2 separate regions of the Homo sapiens genome follow, and region 1 is linked to region 2. Evidence: fine-mapped expression QTL. Tissue or cell type: adrenal gland. Region 2 holds a variant in brackets; the other region holds the start of a gene. All regions are shown on one strand. Distances are between the middles of the regions.

Region 1 (2,753 bases), 140 kb before region 2:
AATGCAGGGCTGTGGGCTGTGCTGGGGGCACCTAGGACAGGCTGGGCACTGAGAGGGCCTCAAGACACCTTTGTCCACCCGACCGGCAGAAGGGAACTAGACTTGCTCTTGGCAGAATGGGCAGGGGCTGTCCACGACACTACCGCGTGCTGTGCTCACTTCCCAGCATCAGCCCACTCTGACCATCAGTTTCTGCATCTAAGACTTGGGTTAACACGGATCTCAGGACGTAAGGATTAAACGTGATAACACGTGGCACACTCCCTATGCCCAGCATGGCTCACGGCTGGGGATGAAGCAGTTAACCGCCTCCGCTGCAGGAGCGGACTTGGCAGCTGAGCTGCCCCCCCGCCCCCGCCGGGGACCTGTCCCTCTGCCCTCGGCCCAGGGTGCAGGGACAAGGACTGGGTGGCCGCGGGAGTCCCCCGAGCCCCATTGGCCTTCCCTTCCGGCCGCCGCCACGCGGGGCGCCGCGTCCCCACGGGTCTAGACGTCCAGCCAACTTCCCGGCTCTGCAAAAGCCTCTGGGGGTGCGCGGGGCTGGGCGGGGGTGCGGCGTGGTCTCCCCCAGGGTGGGCTCCAAAGCTCCCACCCCCGTCCGGGGCGCTGACACCGCCGACTCGCAAGCCTATGCCGCGCTCGGAGCGCCGCGGGGCCAGCACGCCCGGGCGGGCGGCCCGGAGGAGGCGGCGGCACGGCTGGGGCACCCCCGGCTCCGATCCGCGATGAATGGGGCGGCCCGGGCCCCGCTCCCCGCAGCCCCGCCCGGAGGTCCCGCTCCCCGAGCCCCTCGCTCCGCGGCCCTCGCCAGTACGTTGCCCGGGCGCTTCCCAAACTGCCCACGGAGCCGGACCCCGCGCTGCCAACGCTCCGCTCCGGGCAAGGCTGCGGCCCCCGCCGGGCCCCGGCGCTCGCTGCCCCGCACGTCCGGGCCCGGGAGGAGGAGGTCGGGGGAGCCGGGCCGGGCGCCGCGAGCGCTGGGAGGGTCCGGCCCCGCCGGGGAGCGGCCCCCGAGGGCGCAGGAGCGGGAGCCGGGCCGGAGACCCCCGCGCAGCCCGGTGACACCCCCGCCCCGCGTTCCAGCCCGGGGTCCCCAGGCACCGCGCGCGCCCAGGCGGCGCATCCGCACTCACCTCCGCTCCGAGGCCCGCTCCGCCCGCCACGCCGGCCGCCGCCAACGAGCTCCCGGCCCGCGCCGCCCCAGCGCTCTGCAGCGGAGGCGCCGTCCTCATCCCGACCGCAGGCCCGCCCGGGCCGCCCGCCCGCCGGGCACCGAGCCGCTCTGCCGCGCGCTGCGCCTCGGGGCGGGGTGGGAGGAGAGGGAGCAGCCGCCACCCTGCCCAGGTCGCCGCGGGCCAGCCCTGCAGCCAGCTCCAGCCCTGGGCCGGGTGCTGGGAAGGCCGGACGCCGGCCGGCGGCCGCGGGGTCTGCCCCCCGGAGGCTGGGGCGGCTTAGGTTACAGACTCCGCCGCCCCCGCACCCTCCCCCCAGCTATTTTTAGCGCCGCTTTTCCTAGGTGTTTGTTTCATGGGACCCACCCCGGCGATGGGGGGCCCTGAGGCATTGCTCCCTGAACCCCCTCTTCACACTCCCCAGCCAGCCCACCCCAGAATGGCAGGCCTTGCTGCTGAGACGGAAACGCTGCATTCAGCACAACTTAAAAAACGTCTGCCATAATGCTACCCATGTGGCTTCCAGTGGCTGCTCTATCTCCATCCCTGGCCTGCGCTCCAGCTCCCCAGGTGCCCACACATGACACGCTTGTCCCTGTGCTTCTGTCTAGGAGGTGGGGGATGTCCCGACTGGCACCTGGCACCTGCCTGGGCAAGTTCGGTTTGAGTGGCTCAAGTTGGCCCTCGAAGGCACCATAAGGAGGTCCCCATGGCACGCTTTCTCATAGGTGGGAGCTAACATTGCCCCCAGACCTTCGTGTCTCCACTCTGGGTCCCTTGTCCAGCCCTGGGACTGCCCCAGACTGGCCCGTGAGTTCGGCAGCATTGCTGGTGGGGCGCTAGGAGCCATCCAGGCCCCTAGAGAGGGAGAGGCCCTTACCGGTCATTTGTCCAACATCTCCATTCACAGCCAAGGAAACCAAGGCCTGAAGAAGACAAGGAACCTGCCCAAGGCCACACGGCGGAGATGGCTCCAGGCAGAGCCCCCTGGCCCAGTACGTGCCCGTCCCCGGCTGTCCCAGACAGGGGCGTGTGGGCCTCCTCCAAGGGCAGGGGTGCAGCGTTACGGGCAGCATCTGGGGACGGATCGCCCTCCCCCACTTCAGAGGATCCCAAGTCATGAACTTGGTGGACTTCTAAGAAATAGGGTGGCAGTGGGGGGACTTCGCAGAAAGGAATGCTTTCAGAATTAGTCCTTCAGACAAAGGTCCCCCGGGAGCAGGTCAAGCACGCTTTACTTACGCAAGTTCAAGTTGCACACCCTTTTAAGGACACCTTTATTATGTAAAGCAAGGTGTGGCCTAACCACGGGCCTTCTGGTGGAGCCAATGAGTGGGCCTGCCCCTCCCCCAATCTGGTCTGCCTCCTGAAGCTGTTTTGGGACTCTGCGAACGGTATAGAATAAACTAAAAGGAACTGCACATGGCAGTGGGGTTTCTGTGCTGGCATCGCAGCACATGGCATTCCTGCCAGTGGACGCGAAAACGTGAATTGAAAAAGGGGCAGGGGCTGAAAGGCCCCAGAGGCTCGAGGCTTGGCTCACATTTCCATGGCATCATCTGGGGCCTCCAGGTCCTGGGA
Region 2 (2,753 bases):
TCCTCCCACTCCTCCTTAAGTGACTCATTTCTGAAGGTCAGGCCACACTGTGGCTAAGTGAAAGAAACCCGTGTGAGAAGACACGTCCTGACCTCCAGAAATGACCGGGAGCACCTCCCACTGCTGATTGGGGCTGGCAGGACAGAGCAGGCTTTGAGAATCACCCCCTTAAATCATCATAGGCAGCCAGCATCGCCGGCTCAGGGTCAGTCACCAATGGGCATGGGTGTTTGGCTCTTCTCTGGGCAGGAGGATCGATGGCCCCGAGCACAGGCCAGAGCAGCAGCCCCTCCACCGCCAATGGGGCCTGGGCAGGTCTGCCTGAGCTTTTCCACCATCAGATTGTAATACCTACCTAGCTGGGCAATTTCAAGCTGGAAATAATGTAAATTTCTGGGCATGCAAGATAACACTGTCATTAAGAGACCACAGTGATTGTTAGCCAGGCATGGTGGCTCACACCTGTAATCCTAGCACTTTGGGAGGCCAAGGCAGGCAGATCACGAGGTCAGGAGATGGAGACCATCCTGGCTAACACAGTGAAACCCTGTCTCTACTAAAAAAAAAAAAAAAAAAAAAAAAAATATATATATATATATATATATATATATATATATATATATATATATATACAAAAAAAAAAAATAAGCCGGGCGTGGTGGCAGGTGCCTGTAGTCCCAGCTACTCGGGAGGCTGAGGCAGGAGAATGGCGTGAACCTGGGAGGCGGAGCTTGCAGTGAGCCGAGATCGCGCCACTGCACCCCAGCCTGGTGACAGAGCGAGACTCCGTCTCAAAAAAAAAAAAAAAGAGAGACCATCATGAAAATTCGCACTCAGACCCATTCCTGATCCCATCATATTCCAAGTCTCACCTGAAGCAAAGCAGTAGATGAAAGAATCCTGTAGTTCTTGGCACCTTTTATATAAGTGGCTTTCAACAGTCAATGCTAGAACTTAAAGAATCTTCTTCATCTTCTTTTTAACCACATAAAGGGGAAATAATTAAAACAACTACTTTTCAATTTTTTCCCAGCTGATCTACCCAACTCACAACTCTGGATTATAAAATGAACAAAAACGAGTAGGACCAGTAGAAAAACCCCAGAGAATAGCCGATGGCAGAGACTTCGGCACAACCCCACCTCCCTCACCCGCACCATGGCAGACATGTCTAATCTACACAGAGCTAGACCCAGACTCCAGACAGCCATTACCAGTCAATCCCAGTTCATGTGCAAGATTAAACCAGTTACTCATAGCCCGTTTTACCATGAATCAGACAAGGTCAGAAAGGGGGCAGTGACTCACCCAGCCTCACACAGTCACCAAGGAGGCTGGACTGTATCTCCTGAAGCTGGGCAGACAGCCAAGGCCATGGGAGGGAGGGAGGCCGGATCTCCACAA[G/C]GCTGAGGGGCAGGAACTTTCAGAAGCATGTTCTGTATGCAGTGATTCCACTACAAAGCAGAGGCGCCTGCTCTTCTCAACAAGGACAGTGGGCTGCTGGGCTCTGGTGGATTATCACAGGGCATGGCTGCCCCAGGGTCAGGTTCCGGGCTCTGCCCCCTTCCCTGCAGAGAAGGCTGGGATCTCCATGGTTTTAAGAGGGTTGATAGGAAGCTATCAACTTCACTGCCTTCTGGTCCTGAATGTTCTCAGATATATACATTTTAAAGTGTTTAAATTAAGTGGTGATTGGCAAACCCCAGTCTCCAACCCAGAGAGGACCTGGACAGTGGCCTCCTAAGGGAAGCCCTCAAGTTGGCTTGGAAAGACCCAGGCAGTCTACCTCGGGTCTACCTAGAGTCTATCTGGGGTCTATCTATCCAGGGTCTATCTATTTAGGGTCTATCTAGGGTCTATTTAGGGTCTACCTAGGGTCTATCTATCTAGGGTCTCTGCGTCCCACTTTGGGACATCCCTTCCTCCTGCCTCCTTCCCAGCAGCATCAGGGAGGGACCCCTGTGTGTCACTTGTGCGGCTCTCCACCCGACAGAGGGACAGAAGGGCTCATTCCTCTCTCCCTTCCCACGGGGAACTTCCAGCCTCCCTTCTGTTCCCTACCATGCAGTTCAGCAGACACAGGGTGAGTGGGTGCTGCCGGCCACATGGCAGCGTGGGCATCCCCCTCCCCGTCAGAGCTCCCAGTTGGGAGGGGCGGAGCACAGAGAAACAGGTGAAAATTAGAGGGTGGATTTCATCATCTCCAGAAACTTAGGAGAAACCAAGATACCTTCATAGGTGAATGGATGGGCTGGGGTCCCTCCAGACAATGGAATATTTTTCAGTGCTATAAAGAAAGGAACTGCCAGGCTGTGAAAAGGCAGGGAGGAGTCTTAGGTGCTGCTAGGTGAAGAAGCCCATTGGAGAAGGCTGGATACTGTGTGATTCCAACTCCATGACATTCAGGAAAAGGCAAAACCATGAAAACAAGAAAGATCAGCAGCTGCCGGGGCTGGGCAGAGGGTGACTGGCAGGAGCACAGAGTGCAGGGAGGGTGAGTGGCGGGAGCAAGGAGGGCAGGGAGGGTGAGTGGCAGGAGCAAGGAGGGCAGGGAGGGTGCGTGGCAGGAGCACGGAGGGCAGGGAGGGTGACTGGCAGGAGCACAGAGGGCAGGGAGGGTGAGTGGCAGGAGCACGGAGGGCAGGGAGGGTGAGTGGCAGGAGCAAGGAGGGCAGGGAGGGTGACTGGCAGGAGCACAGAGGGCAGGGAGGGTGAGTGGCAGGAGCACGGAGGGCAGGGAGGGTGAGTGGCAG

The links. PIP is the estimated chance that this variant, and not a neighbour inherited with it, causes the effect.
Region 1: it holds the start of ZNF469, and the variant in region 2 is fine-mapped to the expression of ZNF469 in adrenal gland (GTEx, PIP above 0.99).

Annotation. Positions count from the first base shown.
Region 1 is chr16:88,381,635-88,384,387 of GRCh38, reverse strand. It overlaps ZNF469 (zinc finger protein 469), which reads right to left and starts at 1,429. Exons shown (of 3, transcript NM_001367624.2): 1 at 1,134-1,429. RefSeq lists an enhancer at 2,070-2,613.
Region 2 is chr16:88,237,547-88,240,299 of GRCh38, reverse strand. It overlaps a transcript of ZNF469 not described here. Among named protein-coding and RNA genes, the nearest start is that of LINC02182, 45 kb to the right of the region's middle. RefSeq lists an enhancer at 1-157. The variant G/C (reference allele first, on the strand shown) is at 1,405.